Linked DNA regions of Homo sapiens: regions 1 and 2 are each linked to region 3. Evidence: fine-mapped expression QTL. A gene starts in region 3. Each other region holds a variant in brackets. All regions are shown on one strand. Distances are between the middles of the regions.

Region 1 (8,186 bases), 99 kb after region 3:
CTGTAATCCCAGCTACTCGGGTGGCTGAGGCAGGAGAATCACTTGAATCCGGAAGCTGGAGGTTGCAGTGATCAGAGATCATGCCACTGCACTCTTCAGCCTGGGTGACAGAGTGAGACTCTGTCTAAAAAAAAAAAAAGTGCTGAGCAAAGAGGGAAAAGCCCCTTATAAAACCATCAGATCTTGTGCAAACTCACTCACTATCATGAGAACAGCAGCATGGGGGTAACTGCCCCCATGATTCAATTACCTCCCACCAAGTCCCTCCCATGACACATGGGGATTAGGGGAATTATAATTCAAGATGGGGTTTGGGTGAGGACACAGCTGAACCATATCATTGGGCCTGATTAATCACCTTATTGCTGAATATTCCACCTGAGAGCTCTGTGGGCATTTCAAACTCAGCTTATCCTGTATTGAACATTCAAAGGTTGTTCCTCTTCTGTGCTTCCTATTTCAGTGAGTGGCACTACCATTTAACCTGATGTTCATTTTCCACTCCTTTCTCTCCCTCATTCTACCTTCCTATCAATTGCAAAGTCCTGTCATTGTCATTGTCCCTTCTAGATATCTGTAGAATATGTCCACTGGTCTACATCCTTGTAGGATATCTGTTTAATTCATAGACTCATAGTGGTTTCTTTGCTTAGTCTATTTTTTTTTACGCTGCAGCCAGAGTTATTCTAAAACATAAATACATCCAAACCACTCTTTGGCTTGAATCTAACCATGTTTCAGGTAGTTCTCAGATTAAAGTAAAAACTTTTTTAACAAGAACTTGCAAAACCCCTTTTTACCAGACTTTGTGCCATACGCAAACCTATTTTCTGCAACTTGAGAATGCCTTGCTCTCTATTCTTCAGTTATCTGCAAATAGTATTTCTTCTGCATAGGATTTTCTTTACTCCATCCTCCCAACCTTTTGGATGACTTCCTTGATCCGTAGCTTAAGCATCACTTCTTCCAAGAAGCCTTCCTGACTCCCTGGGCCATGTTTGATTTTCCATCCGGTTGCTCTCAGTGCACTCTGAACTCTTCCCATGGTAACATTTATTATGCCATACCATAATTACCTATTTACAAATATGCACAAAGATAGGAATCAGTTTACCATGTTCATTTGTGCATCCCCAACTTCTAACACAAATCCTGTCATCAAGCAGATGCCCAATTAATATTTGCTGGATGAATTAAAGAGAAATAACTTGGATTCAGGTATTAATGATAATTGATTATTATTAGCTATTGGTTCATATGAATAGTTGGTGTTCGTTGAGCATGCTTAACATTTTATTCTATCTCTTTCATCCTTAAAACAACCAATTAAAGACCGGCAGTATTATCCTCACATTACAAATTAAAATCTGAAGCCCCTGAAAGTTTAGAATAACTTGCCCAAAGTTATGTAACTGCTAAACAACAAAATCAAAATAACCTGGGGCTACCTAAGTGAAACACTCATTCTTTTAATTTCTATACCAGGTATGATGAACTTTCTGGATCTCTTTGTTCTCATAGAGCCTTCACAGAAGGTGGGTAACCAGAGAGGGATGTTGCTTAAGTCAGAGTCATCCTGAGCTGAGCCGTTATCTGTTCACCTATAAGGCCAGCTTCCATTTGCTGGGCCTGAAATGGAGCTCAAGACTTCAATATTTTCTTCAGTTTGTTTGGATGTATGTCAAAAAGCTTTTCTGAGAGTAAGCCTCCTAGTAGGTGCTGACCGAATGCTCCAGCAGTGGGCTCCTGTGTACCAAAGGGACATTGATTGATGGTGTCCACAGAGAGAGGGACACGAGGAGTCTGGAAATTGAGGTGTTGATCATGCTTTGTCAGGAGGCATTTTGCATTCTCTTTGTGATTACTAATCCATTTGGGGAGTGGCCTTGTTTTTCATAATATTTCAGGAACTACCACAGTGAATTGTGATCCTGGGATTTACATTATCATTGTAGCTCAGTGGAAATTCTGATAGACTATTGTTTCAGGACATTTTGGGGATTCATAGTCTAGTGATTTGATGTGACTTTAGGGATTTTGATTATGCCATTTTGGCCTGTGCCAGTCATCTTTATGATGGGTTGAACAGTTAAATAGAATGTCTTCCTCTTGTAAAACTCCAGACATATGCCAGATTTCATCTCATGTATTCTTCACTGCATCCGTCTTGGGCAAGAGAGTGGCAATTGTTCATTCTTTTACAGTGAGAAGGACAATGGGGGCCAGAGAGGTTAATTGGCTTACCTCATTGGGACATCCAGATTACAGTAGCTCAACATCATGAGTTTATGTTTCTGAATCAGACTATTTCATCTTACTGGAAGTGAAATGCACACTTTATATTTAAGGGTCCACAATTCTTCCATATATTTGCATTCATTCATTCATTCATTCAATGACTATGGAGAAACTACTCTATGCCAGGTACTGAGGATAGAGCAGGAAATAAGACAGACAAGCTGTTAAGGAACTGATATTCTTATTGAACAGAGGGAACAGAAAACATCACGTAAACATATTTAAATTTTTCATTTCAAATAGTAATGTTCTATAGATAAAATAAAAACAGAATAACAGGATAGAAGGTACCTGGGATAGATGAAGAAACAATCACCAAAAAGCTTCCATTAGTTGGTATCATATGAGCTAACAGCAAAAGGATGAAAAAAGCCAACCTTGAAAAATCTAGAGGAGACCATTTCAGACAGAGAGAACAGCAAGGGCAAAGGCCCTGAGGGTAGAATGAGACTAGCATGGTCAAGGGCCAAAGAATAGAAATGCCAGATCTTACAGACCATGGTTCAGAGGGATACCTTAGAGGATTTTTAAGCAGAGAAGTGATGGGGAGTTCATCTTTGTTATGACAAGATCTCTTCGATTGCCATGCAGAGGTGGACTGAAGGAGGCAAAGTATGAAACAGAATAGGAAGAGATTATTGCAGTGGTTCAATGGAAGATCATTTTTTATTTTTAGTACTTAATTATGTGTCAGACATTGTAAGTGCTTTCCACACGTTTCTTATTTAATGCTCACAAAATTCTACAATGTAATTATCTTCATTTTTTTAGATAAAGAAATAGAAGGTTCAGAAGTTTAAATATCTCATACAAGGCCACTTAATCTAAGTGGCAGAACCAGGATTTAATTTCAAAGTCTGTACTGTTAAATGTTCTTTTCTAGCCCTGGCATATCTTAATTGTCTGCTGGGCCATTCCCCATGGATGTCCCTAAGACACTTTCAACCTATTATATCCAAAATCAAACTCATTGTCTTCTTCCCTAAACCAATTTTTTCCCCTTAGTTCCTCAATTATATTAATGGCATCACTCAGACTCAGTAATCCAGGCTAGGAACACTAATGTCTTCTTAACTGTCTTCACACTGTGCTTTTCTTCATTAATCTGCATCAAATTTGTTGCATCCTTTTATCCATTTAAAGTATTATCTATCCCATTTCTATTCTTACCCTCATTGCCTTGGTTTGGGTCAGTTCAACAATTCCAATTCCAACTGACCCAATTGGGGAAATTTATTAGTTCCCCAATTCCTATTTCTGTCCTCTGTAATCTATATTCATCTTGCCTTTGGGTTTAGTTCTTATCCTAAACCCAAGTTACATTATCCTCTTCCTTTTCAAATTCATTCCCCATTGGTCCCCATTGCTCTTAGAATGGAATTCACTCTTTTTAGCATGGCAGTCAATTTACTAATAATGGGTAGTTCATTTGTTGCTCTGAAGATTGCTTATTATTTTAGCTTTGACTTACTTTTTTTTGCCACTGATAACTCTCACCACATATAACCAGTCATGCAAAGAGGAAGGTTAGGAACACGCAGTCCAGCAATTCCTGATTGAACTGTTTAGATGTCCAGCATGAGCTATGCTAACCAATGGATGAGACACAGTGTTCAAGGGCCAATAGGTGTTTCCATAGCCTCCTGGTAGAGCTTGTTGACCTAACAGGTCTGGGAAGCCACTCAACTGGATGCATTTTTGTTGGATTGAATTGCATGGAAGGTATACAAAGAAAGACCTGAGTTTTAATGACACACCAAAAAGAAAAGGCAGCCAATTCTTATGGATAGGAGTCCTTTTATTTAAAAAGTAAATGGAGATTTCTGGACAGCAGGAAATGCCCATTGCGTGTGAGATTTATCCTAATTCTATATTCAGTTTTGTTTATAGGCAACAGGTCCCTGTGGGTTTAAGTACTGAATAGAGGGCTAAGAAACAGGGGAACTGTGTGGTTATTTTCTGAGTTGAATTTTCAGACTTATAATTTAGGGATTTAATTCTGGTTGTTAGAAACCAGCCAGCATTCTCTGTCTTTAAGCACTGGTAGTCACCAGGCAAATATAAGGTGAAGTCTTTTCTGGCTTAACCCCAGTAAAGATTTCTCAAATGTATGGTGGTTTTTTTTTCAGAGATGTTCTCTGGCCTACTAGATAATGAGAAAGAACATTTAATAATAAGTTATTTTGTTCTACCATTTCTCATTAAAGAAATAAGAATTTTTAGTCTGTTTTCAGTGATGCTGAAGGAGATAAATTGTTTTCTGCTAGTTTTAAGAACTGTGCTAGCAGTTGTTCCCTTTTTTATTTCACAGAATAAATAATAGTTTTTAAAGATAAGGTAGCAAAGCTCCGTATTTTCTATATTTGATTTTAAGGTGGAGGATAATTTTTTAATGTCTGTAGTATAAGTGAATTATAATTTTAAGCAAAATATACATGTTTAGCTGACAATCTTGTATTGTACAAATAATACTATAACAACAATAACAGAAATCAACCAAGAAAAAAAGAAAAGAGAAAAAAGTCTCTTATCTTGCCATTCTAAAATCAGCTGTTTTAATGTTTCCTTCCAGTTACTGTCAATATGTTATCTAATTTTCACATAGTTACA[A/G]TCTTAGCATAGACAAGACTTTATAATCTTTTTTTTGCGTCTAATGTTACATAAGCCTTTTTTTTCCACACCCACTTCACATTTTTAAACCCTAATGTGCTTTTGTAATAAAATTGCTAGACAATAATAGATTTCTTCAAAAAGGGTCACTAAGTTCTGGAAATGAAAGGTTTTCCTTGGATTTCTCAACATTACCATATTGTGGTGAATCACACTTTACTGTTTCAGCTAAAGACAACAGTCTGCCAGGGGTCAAACAGAGCTCCTAAGATAAACAGTCCTAGGACACAAAGGGCCATAACATCATCTGTGAATGCTGAGACCTCAATTCTCCTTACCTGTTCTAACAAGAGTACAAAGCTCATTAGATTTTACCCTTATGTCATTGAAGCTACTGCCTAATTTAATGGCAAGTAAAGTAAATGCATCTCGGGCCTTTGGTTTGCTACATTTACTAGGTACTCAATAAAATAAAGGCCATTGATAACTTTAGCATAGATTCTAATGACAATGCAGAACCTACTGTGCATTCAGTCTTCCCAAAGCTCCCAAGCTATTCCACCAAGGGAAAGACCGTTTTGTCATTAGAGGCAAAGGGAGGGTTTTTTCTTTTTTTTTAAGAGACAGGGTCATGCTCTTTCACCCAGGGTGGAGTGCAGTGGTGTGATCATGGCTCACTGCAGCTTTGAACTCCTGGGCTCCAGGGACCCTCCCACCTCAGCCTCCTGAATAGCTAGGACTGCAAGTGCGTGCTAGTACTCTTAGCTATTAGTACAGGCCTGGCTAATTTTTATTTTTATTTTTTTTTGTAGAGATGGGGGTGTGAAAGGAAATGAAATCTTGGGACCCTAAACTCATTAAGCCAAAGGGAAAAGCTGGGCCGAGAACTGGATGATGCAACCTGCTTCCACCTTTTTGCTTCCTAAATAAGATGGCTACAAGATGAAAAGCTATACATCTCTGCCATATTTTGCCCACAAGGAAATTCCTAGTGAGCTTCAAGATCTTTTAAGGTGTTTCTGTTAAAATTTCACAATTTCGCCATTGCAATGTAAATTTATAGCTTATCCTTACAGGTGCAGTCATCTCCCTGCCCACCAGACACAAAGGCATATCTGATTGTTCTCCTGCCCCATTTTGTCTATGTTATCTTATGTAAAATACAGATACCCTGCATTTTTCCTCTGCCCCATTTGTCTATATCACCTTATATAAAAAAATGCAGAGTCACTGAGCCGGACAAAGGCATGAACGACTATTTTTCCCTACCCCCGCTCTTACATGAAAATTGTGTACTTCTGAATATCCTGCCCTTTCCCCTTTAAATTTGGAGCCCTCAGAATCATCTTCAGAGAAAGGCATAGACCTGTCTCCCGGGCATACATCCTTAACTGTGGCAAATAAACCTCCTAAAATGATTGAGACTTGTCTCGTCATTTTTCTCGATTGATATTGGTCTCACTATGTTGCTCAAGCTGGTCTCAAACTCCTGGGCTCAAGTGATCCTCCCACCTCAGCCTTTCAAAGTGCTGTGATTACAGGTGTGAGCCACTGCACACGGCCAGGAGATGTTAATCAAAGGGTTTACATGCTGTAAAGGCGATGTATAAAGAGTTATAGGGATCTTTCGTTTGCTTTTCCTCATATTTGTTGAGAACTGTGTAGGAATTTCCCATGGATTTGATATTTGCCCATTAACAGACACCAAGAGAAGTAGTCAGAAAACATTCCCTAAAATAAAGTGTGAGCCAACTCAGTGGTCTTCTTTGGAAGAGACCTGAGGGGAGGGAAGGTCACGTAGTGATAAGCAGGGATGCAGACTATGGGGTCTGACTCATGAACTTCATATGTCACAGTTAATAGTCAGAAGACCATGGAAGGTCACATCCAGGCACAGGGACCTGGTGAGGCGTGTGTGTATGTATCTACAACACAGAAATTAAGATGCGCCAAAGAGAGCAAGTGACAGGGCTCTCTCCCTATTTCTCACTTGGCATATGAGATGACCTTCAGGAGCTTCTGTTCTGTATGTCCCATTTATTAGACCAAAGTGTTCTAGAGTTTAATGTGCTAATATTCATAAGCTTTGTTAATTACAACATTATCATCTCTGCTGTCATCATCTTCATCAGCCTCAGCCAGGGAAGACCGAATGTCCTTGGCCAACGAGGCCTGCAAAAATATGAATTTTACCTCAGGCTCGCCTAGTTTTTAAAAAATAAATATTGCTGATAATGATTTACTGGCATTCATAGATGAGATGACAAACTGCTCATCAGGCCCCCACTAATGCAAGGACGCAATGGCCAAATGACCAAATACTGGGCTGTTGCTTACAGGACAAGCTGGATATGCTTACTTCCACTCTAACCACAGCTGGGCTACTGTGGTTTGCTCATTCATTCATTCCTTCATTGAGGAAGTACTGGTAGAGTGTCTACTCTGTGTCAGGTATTGTGCTAGAGGCTGGGCTCTCTGCACGAGCAAAGCAGGCGAATCCTGCTGTCAATGAGCCTTCTGGTGGAGAAGACAGGTGTATTCTAAAAATCTCATACGTAAGTGCAGAAGTAAATCTGTGTTGGGTGCAAAAAAGGAGACTGCGGGTGCAGAGGAAGGGGTGGTGACCTGGGCAGAGGCTTCTTCATGAAGTGATGATTGACCCATGGCTGGAAAAAAGATTAACAAAAAATTGCAGACATTTACGAAGTGGGCATTATGTGCCAGTCTCAGATTTTAGTGCTTTCTATGAATAATCTCTGTGAAGTATGGACTCATGTTAACATACAGGTGAGAAACTTAGGCTTAGATACAGTATATAACTTGTTTAGGACCCCCCAGTGGGTGAGTAGAGGAGTGGGTTTTGGAACTCAGTTTGATTCCAAAGCCTGGGGTCCTAATCACCATGATATAATGCTGTCTTCTATTCTCCCTGAAGTAGAAGTTAACCAGGTGGAAAGGATGGTGGGAAGGAAGTACCAGGCAGGTGGAACAGCATGTGCAGAGCCCAGAGGTGGAAGAGAACTGGAATTATGTGAGGAAGCACAGAGAAGACACACTAGCCAGGGCATGTGGGTGGGGGAGAATGTGGGGTGAGGCAGGGAGGTGGGCAGAGCCAGGCCACATATTGCCTGAACAGTCAAGTCAGACTGTGGCCCTGCCCAAGAGGAAGTCACTGCAGGGATCTAAGCAGGAGTGACCATGATCAGAGTTGAGTTTTGAAAAGGTCACTCTAGCTGCAGTGCAGAGCTTAGAAGGGGGCAAAAGCAGATTTGAGGAGA
Region 2 (8,186 bases), 32 kb after region 3:
GAGAAAAAAGGGTAAAAGAGCAGAAAAATACAGAAAGAAACTGAAGATAGAAAAGGGTAGGCTAGGATAGGGAATATATTTTGCATCACCAATTATTTCTGGTACAACCCATCTTGAGCCAGTATACCCCGCTATTACCCCAGCCACAGGTATCTTCTTCTTTTTTTTTTTTTTTTTTTTTTTTAAGCTTAACCAAGATAATGGATTTCAGTGGGCTCTCAAATCAGAAAGAAATGGGGCTGAAACATTTAGGCAGTGAAAAGTGTGTCACTATTTTTCCTTCCTGTAACCAGGTCAAGAGTTCCGGTAGGAACATGGAGCCTGAGCTGGTAAATTTGAATATCTGATCTTCCAGGCTCGGAGCAATGAATAGTGGTTATAGGGAAAGGAATCGCAGGAGGTAAGATCAATTATGTAATGAGGGGTAATTATGCAACAGGTCATACATCAGTTTGGGAGAGTTGTACACATTTTATGCAGAGCAAGGCTGGGTAGACCTACTACTGCATAGGTAAATGTAAATTACCCAGTTGACTTCAGTGGGTAGAGTTCTTGTCTGAGCACTGCTCGGTTCTCATAAACCTTTCTTCTTTCATTCTCCTCTGATGTCTTCCTGGATTAATAGCAAGAAGGAGAACAGGACAAAGGAATACTTGGTCTTTAAAAGAATAAGCAATTTTCTATAGGTAGGCAGCAAAGTGTTAACCTTTGGTCCTTTCACCCTAGAAAGAAAGAAGTCCTCAGACTTTTGCCATTCATGATGCTTTTAGCAATACTTTTATTTAAATCCAACTCAGTTTCTGAATTATCATGACTTTAATAAAGAGTCTGCATTGGGGCGCTTAAGCTTTATGGTAAACGAAGTAACTTTGTATCATAGAGGTTACAGAATTTAAGTGTCAATTGGATGAGTTCCATGTATTTCCATTCTAGAGACATCTCCAAAGAGAAAAGAAGGTACATGAAAAGAAAGAGGAAAAAATAATGAGCAATAATGACTCAAGTTAAGGGGAAACATTTTTTAAAAAGCGAAACACTAATGGCAATTGATAGATTTGATTTTTATTTTAGTGGAAAGTCCATGAGCTTCTTCTTAATCTCAAAGGATAGTACAATTCATTTGGATTGTCTTGTATACACAGTGATGGTCCACTCTGGTCTACTGCCAGCATTTTGTTGCCAACTTCATTCTTGGATGGTGGGGATGATGAACAACGCGGCATTCCACTCCTGTTCCCAGTGTGGTCCATCTGTGGCACTTTCTGTCATTCAGTTTCCAATTTGCTTTAAATAGTTTTATTTACTCTAAACGAGGATGGTGCTATGTTGCCAGTGACAGGCTCTTCACCTCCATCATCACAGAAAATGTTGTCAATATAGAATTAGAGAATAAAAAAACTAACAGGTAGAAGTCAGATAAAGCCAGTGACTTGCACAAATGGCAGCGTGAAAATCTTAACTTTATTAATTTTGAGTGTGCTTTGTATTTCCAGACTTTTGCTAATGTGGTACATAGCTTCTTAAAAGCAAGGCTCATTTTCTCCATACTCAAGGAAGAAGTAACTCTAGTATTTTATTTTAGTGGTTTAGTTTCAGCATTTTAAAAAATCCTTCCATATTATCTGTTACCCAATTTGCTAAAGAATAGCACAATAGGTACTAAAGTTCAGTGAACTGGTCCAAAGTTTCAGTTCACCTCATGTTTATTGACTCTTCTTATTGTGTTCTGACACTGGGGTTATAAAGACGACAAAAGTGTAGTTCCTGACCTCTCTCACCAAGCTCGTAGCTTAACCAAGAGAGACACAAAAAAAGAGACAGTCCAAGTTGAGACATTGTTTATGCTTCATAATAATTTTGGAAGAAACAAATCAAGTGCTAGATTTCCTCTTGGCAAGAAAGAAGGAGATGGAAAGCCACAAGAGTAAGTGGGAGAGGGGAAATTTGGTGGTGGGTGCTGTGTTAGAATTATAGGAGAGTGAAGTTTTATAGGAGAGTGAAGTTTTTTTAGCATTTTTTTTTTGCCTTCAACTTTATATATAGGAAAATTTCAGGCTTACAGGAAAGTTAGAAAAATAGTACAGTGGGTACCCATATGCCCTTTATGTAGCTTCAGCAGTTGTTAACCTTTAGTCACATTCATTTGCACTATCCCTGGGTATACTTTTTTGAACCATAAAAATAAGTTGCAGACATCATGACTTTTCACCCCTCAGTTGTTTAACGGCATCATTACACTTATAAAATAAATAATAATTCCATGATATCATCTAATACAGAATCCAGAGTTTGGATTTCTCTTATTGTTTCAAATATATCTTTTATAGTTTTTTTCCCTCCCTGATTCATGATTTGACCAATATTCTTACATTGTACTTAGTTGTTGTGTCTCTTAGTCTTTTTGGATTTATGTTTTTAGTTTCCTTTGTTTTATGACATGGAATTTTTTGAGTCTATGCTGGTTGTATTGAAGAATGCCCCATATGTTTGATTCATCAGATTATATCTTCATGAATAGATTCAGGTTAAACATTTTTGGCAAGAATCCCACAGATAAATGTTGTAGTACAACAGCTATAAATTTTAAATTTATGGACTTCATGGTTATATGTGTATGTATATGTCTTCTACTGGGGAAAAGGTTGTAGTTCTTACCAAATTTCCAAAGATTCCATAAGACCCCCAAAGGTTAAGAATTAGAGATGGAGTAAGTTGTTATTAGTGGGAGGTAAGTAGGTATTTAGTCTACACTTATATCTTAAATCATTAGATTTTATTTATTTTTAAACACGGCATTTTTACTGGTAGGTTTTTTAAAAAAGTAATTCATATACATGATAAAATTCAAGTAATACAAAAATATTAGAGTGCAAAATGTCTTCTGACTCCAGTTCTCCAGATTCCTTGTTGTTCTTGGCAAAAATAACCTGTATTTCCAGTTTCTTGAATGTACCTCCAGAAAAATCTGTGTATAGCTGGGTATATTTGTGGATATGTGTTCTTTTATTTATTTATTTTACACAAATAGGAGAATTTTACAGTGGAGATGTTCTATAGGTGAATTGACTTATATTATTGTAATGCATATATGTGACAAAACAAAAATAGTATAAAACAAAACAAACCAAAGCAGGAAAGAATCAATGCTGCTGATCCACATGACATTCTACTTGATGACTGAGCAGGAGACAGTCACACCAGCATGTTGCTCCTTTAGCTGGACTCACTCTTAGCATGCACAGCCCTGAGCCTGGGGTGAGGCTAG[C/CTT]TTTTTTTTTTTTTTTTTTAAAGTGTATTTTACTGTGGTAAAAACATTTTTTAATCTTTCTTTCTTTTTTTTTTTTTTTTTAGAGACAGGGTCTTGCTATATTGCCCACACTGGACTCAAACACCTGGGCTCAAGCTATACTCTTGCCTCAACCTCCTGAGTAGCAGGGACTACAGGCATATGCCATTGTGCCTGTAGGTCTCACATTTAATGTGAGATTTGCTCTCTTAACAGATTTTTGAGTATACAATACAATACAATATAGGCACAGTGTTGTACAGCAGATCTCTAGAATTCATTTGTCTTATATAACTGAAGGTTTATACCTATTGAGTAGCACCTCACAATTTCCCCTTTCTCCCAGCCCCCAGAAACCCTTCTGCTCTCTGTTTCCATGAGTTTGACTGGATACTTCATATAAGTGGAATTATACAGTATTTGGCCTTCTGTGTCTGGCTTAATTCACTTAGGATAATGTCCTCCTGGTTCATCCATGTTGTAGCAAATGGTTAGATTTCCTTCATTTTTAAGGCTGGATAGAGGCTAACTTTTAAAGACTGTATTTATCACAAACGTGGTCCCTGTGCGAGCCAGCTTCATCTGGTGTGCAAATGAAGAAATACAAGAGCCTTTTAGTGCCAAAGGAAACACTAGCTCTGTGCAACATTTACTGAGGGAGTGTTCGTAATGCTTCCAAACTGGCATTACCCTGGGGGATCTTTGAGGGACATTAGGATTATATTAAATTTTAGCCTTACACACTGACTCGAGAGCCCCTGGTAAGGTGCATTCCATGGCTCCTTGTTCAGCTCCATGCTTTTTGAAAGTTAACAAGATATCTTGGTTCTTCCACATCAGCACACAGAGATCTACTTTATTTTTTAAAATAACTAAATGGTATTCCATTGCATAAATGTACCAGGATTTGTTCAGAATCTGTCCTCCATTGATGGATATTTAGGGTTTTTTTTTAGACTTTTGCTGCTATAATTATAATGCTACAATGAATGATGTGTCTTTTTATAATACATTTTGGGGATTTTGTATGACCAAGTGACCACAGGAGAACAATTAGAATATTTTTGCTATATTTACTTAAAAATATAAAATTTATTTCCTTTTTTCGTTACTTTTGAATTGAAACTTTTGGTCCTGATTCCTATAATTTCAGCTTTTCAAAATTGAGTTTAAAAAATAATACTAATTAATTACCTTTAAAAAAATCCCACATATTAGCATAATGTCTAAATCCATTCAGTGGCATTAGGACTCCAAAAGACAATTTACCAAATATCTCTACTACTTACTATTTATTCAACAAATATTTCTTGAGTGCGTGCCTCTATGTGCCAGGGATTATATTAAGGATTTTAGTAGATTTTATATTTCCTAGTTTTATTAAAATTGTGCTTAATTTAAGATTAAAAGCTACTTGTTAGTTGTTCATTTATTCCATTTATAATTGCTCATTTATTCCGTTAAGTTAACGAGGTATTTGTATATCAGTGAGGTGGAGAGGAGGGGAAAGGTAATATATTTATATTAAAAAGTTCACTTAATGTATTTCCTAGATAGCAGTTATAAAAGGTAGGGTTTCTTTTTTTCTCCTTTCCCTCCTTCCCTCCCTCTCTTTGTTCCTTCTCTGTCTCTCCAATTTTAATAATTGGTATTATCAGTCCTTCCTCATTCATCTTCTTATTTTTCCCTAGATGCTTTTTCCTGGCTCTTATTGCTTTTTTAGATTTACGTAGGAACTTTAAAATCAACTTGTTTAATTTGAAAATCCTACTAATAATTTTGGGGATGTGATTCACAATAGAGTATTTATAAAATAGCTCTGAAAGAATCAACATCTTTTTTTTTTTTTTTTTTTTTGAGGTGGAGTCTTGCTCTGTCACCCAGGCTGGAGTGTAGTGACTCCATCTCGTTTCCTTGCAACTTCTGCTTCCCAGGTTCAAGCAATTCTTCTGCCTCAGCCTCCCGAGTAGTTGGGACTACAGGTATCCACCACCACTCCTGGCTAATTTTTGTGTTTTTAGTGGAGACTGGGTTTCACCATGTTGGCCAGGCTGTTCTTGAACTCCTGACCTTAAGTGATCTGCCCGCCTCGGCCTGCCAAAGTGCTGGGATTACAGGCATTAGCCACCGCACCGGGCCTAAGATGCCAAGTCTTTAAAATGAAAAACATAATTCAATTTGCTTCAGTCTTTAAAAAAATTACTGTTAAGTTTGTCTCTTGGAATTTTTTATCTTTTTGCCCTCTTTGTGAATAGAATGATTCCTTCTATTATGTCTTCTGGTTGTGGTTCAAATGTAAGAATAGTATTGATTTTTCCATATTATATTTCTTACCTGGGCCCCATGCTGGATTCTTTCACTATTTGTAATAGTTTTTCAGCTGATTCTCTTGAGTTCTCCAGCTAAGCAATCATTTTATCTGCACATATCTCTAAACAATATTAAATAATGGTGATGCTAAGTTGTATGATGAGGTTAACTTTTTTTTTCTTTAGACAGAGTTTCACTCTTGTTGCCCAGGCTGGAGTGCAATAGTGTGATCTTGGCTCACTGCAACCTCTGCCTCCTGGGTTCAAGCAGTTCTCCTGCATCAGCCCCTGAGTGGCTGGAATTACAGGCGCCCACTACCACAGCTGGCTAATTTTTTCTATTTTTAGTAGAGACAGGATTTCACCATGTTGGCCAGGCTGGTCCTGACCTCAGGTGATCCACCTGCCTTGGCCTCCCAAAGTGCTGGGATTACAGGCATGAGCCACCACACCTGGCTGGCTAGGTTAACTTCTTTATGTGCACATTCTCTAACAAAGTCTCCCTGGCTAATTGCTTGACCGAAAGCAGATATAAGCTGTTAAACATGAACACAACCAAACCTGTCACTACAACAAAACAGAACAAAACAAAACATGCAAGTAAAGAAAAACTGTTCTCCAAAGGCTTTGAGAAATATGGGATTATGTAAAGCAACCAAATCTGTAACTTATTAGCATTTCTGAGAAGAGAAGGTAAGCAACTTGGAAAACATATTCAAGGATATAATTGAGGAAAATTTCCCCAATCTTGCTAGAGAGATCAACATGCAGAGACAAGAAATCCATGGAACTCCTCCAAGATACTATATAAAATGACCATCCCCAAGGCACATAGTTATCAGACTACGCAGGGTCATGGAAAAGAAAAAAATCTTAAAGGCAGCTGGACAAAAGAGTCGTATTACCTGTAAAGAGAAATCCATCAGACTAACAGTGGACTTCTCAGCAGAAACTTTACAAACCAGAAGAGATTGCAGGCCCATTTTTAGCATTCTTAAAGAAAATAAATGCCAGCTAAGAATTTCATATCCCACCAAACTAAGCTTCATAAATCAAGGAGAAATAAAGTCTTTCCTTGATCTTCAATCGCTAAGGGAATTCATCACCACCAGACTGGCCCTACGAGAGATCCTTAAAGGAATTCTAAACAAGGAAACAAAAGAACAATACTTGCTGTCACAAAACCAGACACAAGCACATAACTCATAGATTCTATAAAGCAACTACACAATTGTGATTACAGAGCAACTAGTTAACACCAGTGTGACAGGAACAAAACCTCACCTATCAATATTAACCTTGAACATAAATGGCATAAATACTCTATTTAAAATATATAGAGTGGCAAATTGGATTAAAAAAAAAAAAGATGCACCTTTCTAGTGTTTTTAAGAGACCCATTTGACATATAATGATGCCCAGAGTCTCAAAGTAAAGGGATGGAGAAGGATCTATCACACAAATGGAAAGAAAAGAGGAGCTCTTCTTGTATCAGATAGAATAGACTTTAAACCAACAACAGTAAAGAAGGACAAAGAAGGGCATTACATAGTGATAAAGGCTTGAATTCAACAAGAAGACTTAAGTACTCTAAATAAATAGGCACCCAACATTGGAGCACCCAGATTTATAAAACAATTACTTCTAGACCTAAGAAAAGACTTTGACAGCCACATAATAGTAGTGGTGGACTTCAACACCCCACCGACAGCATTAGACACTCATTGGGGCAGAAAACTAACAAATTCTGGACTTAAATTCAACACTTGACCAATTGGACCTGATATATACATCTACAGAACACGCTACCCAACAACCACAGAATGCATTCTTCTAATCTGCAGATAGAACATACTCTAAGATTGACCACATGCTTGGTCATAAAGCAAGTCTCAATAAATTTTTTTAAAAACCTGAAAATCAAGCCAAGTATCTTCTTAGATCTCAGTGGAATAAAAATAGAAATCAATACCAAGAGGAACACTCAAAACTACACAAATACATGGAAATTAAATAACTTGCTCCTGAATGACTTCAATGAAGTTAAAGCAGAAATAAAAAAATTCTTTGAGACAATGAAAATAGACACAACATACCAAAACCTCTGGCATATGGCAAAAGCAGTGGTAAGAGGAAAGTTTACAACACTAAATGATTACATCAAGAAGATACAAAGATCTCAATTAACAACCTAAACTTGCATCTAAAGGAACTAGAAAAACAAGAGCAAACTAATCCCAAAGCTTAGCAGAAGAAAAGAAATAACTAAAACTAGAACAGAACTAAACAAAATTGAAACCCAAGAAAAAGTACAAAGGATCAATGAAATGAAAAATTGGTTTTTTGAAAGGTTAAACAAGATTGATAGACTGCTAACTAGACTCAAAAAAGAGAGAAGATCCAAATAAGCACAATTAGAAATGAGAAAGGTGACATCATCACTGATTCCATAGAAATACAAAAGATCCTTGGAGACACTATGAACATCTCTATGCACATAAACTAGAAAATCTAGAGGAAATGGAGAAATTCCTGGAAACACACAACCTCCCAAGATGGAAACAAGAAGAAATAGAAATCCTAAACAGACCATT
Region 3 (8,186 bases):
AGCTCTCAAGTCTAAAGCAACAGTACGGACTCTGGGAGTGCTTTGCTGACTTTGGCATGTTTTTCTGGTGTTGACAGATACTCTATTAGATATCAATTGCTATGTAACAAATTATTCCAAGACTTAGTGTCTGAAAGCAACAATAATTTATTATCTCTCGAAGTGTCTATGAATCAGGAATTCAAGAGCAGCTCTGTTGGGTGTTCTGGCTTTAAGTCTTTAATGAGGTTGCAGTCAGCTGTGAGAGGGCTCTAGTCATCTGATGGCATGACTGGGGCTGGAAGATCTTCCAAGGTCATTCACATGTTGGTAAGTTGGTGCTGGCTGGTTGCTTCCTCTCCAAGAAGGTGTCTGCACAACCCTGACTGAATGTCTTCATGACATGGCAGCTGGCTTATCCCAGAGCAAGTTAGCAAGAAAGAGCAAGGCAGAAGCTGCAATGCCTTTATGAACTAGCCTTGGAAGTCACACTTTATCATTTCTACCATATTCTATCAGTCACAAAGGCAAGCCCTGATTCAACATAGAAGGGGACTACACAAGGGAGTGCATACCAGGAGGTAAGCATCACTGGGGGCCATTTTGGAGGCTGGCTACCACAGAGAAGTTGTCAGCAGCAAGAATATTTTTATTTTATTATTTTATTTTATTTATTTATTTATTTATTTATTTATTTATTTATTTATTTTTATTTTACTTTGAGACAGGGTCTCACTCTGTCGCCCAGGCTGGAATGCAGCAGTGTGATCAGAGAGCCCAGGTTCAGGTGATTCTCCCACCTCAGTCTCCTGGGTAGCTGGGACTATAGGCACAGGCCACCACGTCTGGCTAGGCTAATTTTTTGTAGAGACAGGTTTCAGCCAAGTTGCCCAGGCTGATCTCAAACTCCTGGGCTCAAGCAATCCACCACCTCAGCTTCTCAAAGTGCTGGGATTATAGGCATGAGCCACTGTGCCCAGCCAGAAAACATTTTATGGCAATAAACACAATATGCAATTGAAAGTGGCTTAAATAATGACACTATCTCACATAATAAGAAGTATGTAGAGAGCACAGTTCTGGGGTTAATTCTTGGCCCTGATACCTCCCTCCAAGACAAAGAGCTCATTATATTTTCACTTTGCTTTCTTCAACATGCTGGGGATCTCTCCCATCATGGTCACATGTTGGCTGCAGTGGTTTTAGGGGTCATAGGCAGACAGGACCACATCCATTGCAAAAGAAAGGAGCGTCATTTTGTGAGTTAATTTTATTTTGAGAGATAACATTTCCTGGAAATGCTGTTATTGTTGTCTCAGATCCCACTGGCCAGGACTGGAAAACATAGTAATGCCTAAAAAATATATTATATTGTAAATCCATATATTTGCAAGCATCAGTATTTTGTAAATGCATACCTCATTTTTCAGCAAGAAAAAGAAAATTAAGGGGCCCACAGAAACTCAGTCTTAAAAAAATTTAGAAATATGGCTGGGCGCGATGGCTCATGTCTGTAATCCCAGCACTTTGGGAGGTCGAGGCAGGCGGATCACCTGAGGTCAGGAGTTTGAGACCAGCCTGGCCAACATGGTGAAACCCCGTCTCTAGTAAAAATACAAAAATTAGCTGGGTGTGCTGGCAGGCGCCTGTAATCGCAGCTATTTGGGAGGCCAAGGCAGGAGAATTGCTTGAACCTGGGAGGCGGAGGTTGCAGTGAGCCAAGATCGCGTCATTGCACCGCAGCCTGGGCGACAAGAGCAACACTCCGTCTCAAAACAACAACAAAAAATTTAAAAAAATTTAGTTTTACAGATACTTTAGTACAAACATACCCAATTCTGTCAAGACTGAAGAACTTTCCAGGGACCTAGTATCAGAACTCTGTTTCTCCCATCTCCTTCCCAAATAAAAGAGGGGAAATAACGGCTTGACTAATGACCTTCTTGTGATACTTACCTGTTGGCCTTTTCATTTGACCCTGGAATGGTCTATTTTGCTAGGTGTAGTATATGCCAATGAATGTGAAAGAAAACAATGGCAGAGAGATGAAGGATTTATAGACAATGGTTCTTTGGCTAGGTAAACTGACACCTGCTAATTACCAATAAGTGTCTTGGAAAGTGAAATGTGAAAGCAAAATCACAGATACGATTCTCATATACATGCTTAAGGTTATTCAGAATGTGGTAAGGTCACAGCAACAATCAAGAATTAAGCTAAAAAACAAGCTGTGTATATTCTTAGTAAAGAAAATAGAAGTTTTATTGAAGTGCTCCATTGTTTTAAAAAATTAAAAATTTCAGATCCTTACAATTTTCCAAAACAGGATCATTAAAAAATACCTTTATTTTAATACTTGTTAGGGGTCTTCTTGTCTAAAGAGAAATGACAGTGACTGAAAGAAGGTGTGCTACCCAAAGCACTCGTAGGCCACGATGAACCTACATTCCTGGCCTTCAGTCAGTTTCCGGATCTTTCTTTGCCCAGGGCTAAGATACTGAAATAACGATTTATTAAAATTAACACACCTGCAATTCTGGTTCTTAGATGGGAACCATTTAATATATGGGCTTGGTTCTGAGATCTTTACTCAATAAAACTCCCAACTGTTTTGACTGACATCGTTGGCACTTCGTGACTGATTAAGGCACCTGCCTCCGGTTCCATGTCACTTCGTCTTGGGACACGTGGCGCTAATGCCACTTTTCAACCCCCCACCCCATTCAGCGACATTAACCCGGGCGACAGTCCAGGGCTAAACAGTTGCTGAAACAGTTAAATGTGTGTTTTATTGAGGTGAACCACGTACACAACAACCCCCTTTGAGTGAAACAATTTTGTTGTGTAACCATTTGTCACTTCTACATGGATGAGGTCAACGAAATCCTCAAAGTTGCTGTCTCAGGAATAAATTTTGTTCGTGGTTGGGAAAACGAAGTGGAGAATGTTATGGGATAGAGAAAATAGCTTATTTTCTCAGTGGTTAAGTGGGAGTGGGTAAAACACAATTGGCCTTGCATGTGCTTTGTTTAAACGGCGGTGCAGTAATTCTAAATGAGAAGACAAGACGCCCATCGTCACCGTCTTCTCCCTTTGTCTCACATTCCGCCCGGAGATGTGGGGGGTCTCACTCAATGCGGAACGGAGGTGGCGGGGGTGCGGCGCCCCAGAGGCGAAGGCGGAGGCGCCAGGACGCCGCTCCTGGCCTCTCAGGATACCAGCAGGCTACACGCAAGGTCGGGGGCAAGGCCGCGTGGCGGCTTGGAGCCGCGCGAAGGAAGCGAGGGCTGGCGGCCCCAGGGCAAAGGGGTCTGGCGGCGCCAGCCTGGGGCGCTGCAGCGGGCGGGGCGTGCGCAGCGCCGCTCCCCGGAGAGAAAGGAACCTCCGCAATGTCGGGGCCCGGCTGCGACCGGAAAACGGCGGGGGAAGAGAGAAAAGGAGGAGGGAGGGGGAAAAGGAGGTGGGGATACGAAGGAGCGGGGAGGCGGCGGGCGGGGCCTGCGGCGCGCAGCCCCAGTAGATCTCCGGAAATTTTCCACTAACGCTCCGAGCGCCAGAGCCGCCCGGGCGCAGCCCGCCTCTGCGCGCCCGCGACCCACGTGACGGTGATTCATTCGGCACCGCCTCCCCAGCCCGCGCGCGGACTTGGAGCCAAGAGTGGGAGCAGGGGTCGGGGGGAGGAGAAGGTGGAGGAGGAGGCGAAGAGGAGGCGGGGAGGAGGCGGGGAGGAGGGGGGAAGGGTTCGGGGAGAGGGAGGAGGGGAAGCAGAGGGGACGATGAGGTGCGGAGGCGTTGGCAGGTACCTGGGCCCCGCCGCCCGGGTGTGTGGGGGTCGGGTCGGGGGTCCAGCAAAGCCCCATCCAGTCGAGCCTGGGCAAGCTGAGAGGCTGTCGGGTGCGCTCCAGTTACGCTCCCCTGCGTCGTGGAAAACCTAGAGAGCCCTACAGCGTCAGGGCTAATCCCGGGACGCCTCGAGGCCCCGCGGAGTTTTCGCGAACGCGCCGGGCGGTGCAGGGATGTCCTGCTTGGGAGAGTGCAGGGTTGGAAGCGGGCACGCCCTGTTGGCAGCTGCCGGCGCTTGTGTACGTGGCTGCTGACGTGGAGAACTGTAGCTGTGGAAAGCCTGCGCCCCAAGGAGGGACGCGGGGGTGCAGTCGCGGCCCATTATCTGTGCCCGGGAAGTCCTGAAGGCTCTAGGAGCTGTCAGATTAAACCCCCAGACCCACAAGAAAATCCCTGAAGCTTCGGTGAGCGTGGGATTTGGCGTGCAGTTGGTTCCGTATGGTTCCCCATTAAGACTTGGAAGTCGGCTTACCAAGATTTCCTCTTACCCTTCGGCTGTGTTGAGTAGATATTACACAGACACCCCGCCCATGACTCTGCTCTTGCAGGAAAACATTTATTTCAAAAATACTGCAACGGTTTCATCTCTCATGTCCTTTTAGGTTCTTTCTAGTAATTGTGAACTTTTCCTCTCAAGTCATTCCATCAAAGTCTTGGAAGCAAATGAAAAAAACATACTACCCTGAAATAGAGTTCACATCTTTCTTTACCAACTTGCCTTTCCCAGGAAGACATCGTGGTGGGTTTGCAGTTCAGGTTTCCTCACAGCCTCTCCTGGGGGTCTTTTTCCCTCTCTGGTACCTTGAGGCATAGGACAGAAGGGAGCTGCTGAAGTTTCTGGATGTCGCTTATTTTTCACATTTGTTTTAACTTCTTTTGGCCAGAACTGTGTATTGTTTTCGCATAGATTTCTGCAATTAGAATTATTGTAATTAGAAAGAATAATAATCTTCATATAAGGCTTAGGGTACGCACTACTTTAAGGTCTTTGTAAATGTGTGCATATTCATTTCTCTCATCAACTCTGAGGTAGGGGCTATTCTTACCCCATTATTGACCTTTTACAAATGAGGAAACTGATGCTTGGAGAAGTTAGATAACTCGCCCAAGGCCATTCCTTCTCTAAGAGGAGGAACTGGAATTTGACCCCAAACTGTCAGGTAAATCCAATGCTTTGTTCACTATGCAATAGAAATTCTTTATTAATAAATTTAATTGTGTTGAAATATTAAGTTTACATTTTGGTGGGATTTTCCCCCTCGTTTTATTAAAGTGGCCTTCCTGAATTTTATTGTGGAGGGATGTTTAAAGTTAGTTTGGGTAGAAAGCCACACACAATTGTAAAAAGGAAGTCTTATGAAGAAATCATGCATTCCAAGGCAGTGTTACATTTTTCTTAAAGGGTAGATTATTGAAATATTTGACCTAAGAACTCATTTTTTTTCTCAGGAGAAAGGTTTGTCTTCATACACCTTTAGCCCCGAGCAAATGGTGAATCCTCCAGGAGAATGACGATGAGGCTTTTTAGTCTTCAGGGTTCGATAAATATATATCGATTGAAATGTATTCAAAAAGTGAATACCCTTGAAAGGACGATGACATAATGCCAAATGAAAAGGAAATTTCCCAAAGAAACCTAAATAATGGATAGATTTGATAGCAAGATACTACTGGTTTTTTCCTTCTGGAACCTTCTTTTCTGCACTTGAAACCTTCCCTGTCCAGCCAAGACTGGGTTAGAAGCTCCTTTTGTGTGTTCGTGTGGCACCCAAGGTCTGCCCCTGTAGTGGTACTGACCACGGTGTATTCTCGTGGCCTGTTCACCTGGCTGTGCTTCCCAGGAGAGTAAGTGCCTGGAAGAGCAGGCATTCTGTCAGGCTCAACAGAGTGCAACAGCGTGTCCCCAGGGCTCAGGACAGTTGTTTGTCCTAGAGCTATGGGAGTTATTGAGCTAAGCAATACTTGTTAAAAGCATGAGCTTACACAATTGATCAGCCATGTCTTGTTAGGATGTACTGAATTGGAATTTAGCAGAAACTGGGAGAGCAATGTCCCCGTCAGGAAATGTCTGTTCAATCTTGGTCTGTGTATATCCTACTTACCCACATGTTATTTTGCACATAATAGTTTTTTTGATGTTTATTAAGAACAAAAACAGCCTCTTTAAAATTGTGTGTTCAGTTAGCTAACTGTATTTCAGCATCCAATTAATAATCAGAGGTTTAATAACTACAGCCTTAATTCTGGCCTCACAATGATAGAATGATAAAATCATAGGTTTTTTTTTTTTTTTTTTTTTTTTGGCTGAAGGAGATCTTATAACTGCTCTGTCCAATACACAACCACTGGCCACATGGCTATTTGAATGAATTAAAATTAATAAAATTGACAATTAAGTTCTTCAATAGGGCATTTTAATTGCTCAGTAGCCACATGTGACTACTTAAATAAAATTAATTTTATTAATTCATTCAAAAATGGACAGCACTGACAGATAGTTCCATTATTGTAGGAACTGTTATTGGACAGGGCTGATAAGTTACCGAAGGAAAAAAAACAGGTAAAAGAAGATATTTGAGATAGCTTAGCATTAGCATTGTTACATACAAAGAACATTACACTCATATTCAAAGTGTCTGCTGTTAGGTTGGTGCAAAAGTAATTGCGGTTTTTGCCATTACTTTTAATGAGGAAATATTTCGTATATGATAAACAGTTTTCCTTAGCAGTTGTACCTAAATTAATGCACATTTAAACATATTCAGGAGAATGAATGGTTCAAAAGGATTCCTTTTTGCATTCCTTTAAAGTGAATACTCATTCCAGTTGATCCTTTGTGAGTTCTATTTTTTTTTCTGTTTAAACATACTGAAATCAACTTGAGTCACTACACAAGTTTGACATTCATTAGATTTGGCTGTGCTTTTTAAGCTCGCATGATTGAGAAACTAAAATACTCAGTAATGTTGGTAAAGGACAAATGCCAGATAGTTTTGGACAGACCAAATATATATTTAATGACATCACACATGCAATACAGACAGTTCTCAATTTACAAACACTCTTGAGAAGCAGCCATAGGTTAAATATAAAACATACTGGGTGTACCTTCTTTAAAATCCTCTTAAGAACAGTACCACCTGGATATCCATTGTATGAACAAATTAGTATTTAAAAATAATAAAAATAAGTCTTAGAATTAGAGAATGTATAGTTTTGAGCTGTGGAGGCAATAAAGAGGCTGTGTAAAACTCAGGGGGAGTTAGTTGAGGTTATTTCCACAGTAGAGCAGATTTGCTTAAGTAACCCCCTGACAAAAATAGCTTAGTTCCGCCTCCCCGCAGCATGCCTGCCCCTCCCTGCTGTGTGCATTTCCCCCAGTCCTTCAGTCGTTAAAAATTTTCCCATTTCATTTATACTCCAGTTTCAGTTCCGTTGATTCAAAGTTTTGGGACTTAGGACAAGTTTGCTAGCTTCTCTGAGCCTCAGTTTTTTAAACCGTTAAATAGGAATAACAGCATGCTGAGTGCCAAGAATTAAAGAAAAATTTATGTGAAAATATAGATTAGAAAGAAAACTAATATAAATGCAGGGGATTATGATCATAATACTCATAAAACTTCAGTACTCCCTGGGAAGATCCAATGGCCGTCAGTCATGTGCACGTGATCAGAATCTGGGCCATCATATTTTTTTAAGCAAGTTGATGGCCTGAGGGTTCTTGGCCAGGTGGGAGGAGGCTGCTCTGGGATGTTGAAGAGAGATTTTAAAAAGGAGATGGAAGGCTGTGAAAACATAGTTCAAATTGGAGGGAGCTTGGGCAGATACCACCTTTTCTTTTAAGGAATGAATGTAATTGCTTGCATTTTGTCTCTACTTCCTTCCTCTCATTGATTTATTCCGAAGGCTAGAGTTTCTACTTTACATTCTAATTCATCTGACATAGCGTGTTTTTAAAAAACTTAGCATTGCTTGCTTTGATTTTCCAGTTGACTTTTGCTGATGGAGCCTCTCTGAAGGGCAAATTCAAAGTACAGCTGGGTGCTGCAGCACTGGAGTGCGAACTTGTGGCTGTGGTTATGAAGGAGCCTCGTCAGCTATGCCTTTAGCCCCTGGTGAAGCAGTGCCAGTCACACTTTGCCAGTCAAACGGAGAGGCAGCAGTAGTAAGACCAGACCAAATCAAACCAAACCAAGCAAACCACGGGGAATGGAGGTAGGTGAATAGCGCCAAAGAGAATGATGGCTCACAACACTTCTAAGCATGGTGCATATATCAGTTCATTTAAGCCTTATGATGACCCTATGGGGTCAGTACTATTATCGTTATTATCCCCAACTGAGGCACAGAACAACTGTGTGACT

Evidence for each region. PIP is the estimated chance that this variant, and not a neighbour inherited with it, causes the effect.
Region 1: its variant is the best candidate, but not a certain one, in a credible set for the expression of SLC38A4-AS1 in whole blood (INTERVAL, PIP 0.86).
Region 2: its variant is the best candidate, but not a certain one, in a credible set for the expression of SLC38A4-AS1 in lymphoblastoid cells (GEUVADIS, PIP 0.84).

Annotation. Positions count from the first base shown.
Region 1 is chr12:46,478,738-46,486,923 of GRCh38, forward strand. The region is part of intron 3 of SLC38A4-AS1 (SLC38A4 antisense RNA 1); the gene reads left to right. All of the region lies in intron 1 of LOC124902923 (a long non-coding RNA gene), which reads right to left. Among named protein-coding and RNA genes, the nearest start is that of SLC38A4-AS1, 99 kb to the left of the region's middle. The variant A/G (reference allele first, on the strand shown) is at 4,909.
Region 2 is chr12:46,411,857-46,420,042 of GRCh38, forward strand. All of the region lies in intron 2 of SLC38A4-AS1 (SLC38A4 antisense RNA 1), which reads left to right. Among named protein-coding and RNA genes, the nearest start is that of SLC38A4-AS1, 32 kb to the left of the region's middle. The variant C/CTT (reference allele first, on the strand shown) is at 3,266.
Region 3 is chr12:46,379,936-46,388,121 of GRCh38, forward strand. SLC38A4-AS1 (SLC38A4 antisense RNA 1) reads left to right here and starts at 3,741. Exons shown (of 4, transcript NR_125380.1): 1 at 3,741-3,760; 2 at 7,812-8,037. RefSeq lists enhancers at 3,105-3,612, 6,306-6,807 and silencers at 3,167-3,526, 3,677-3,746.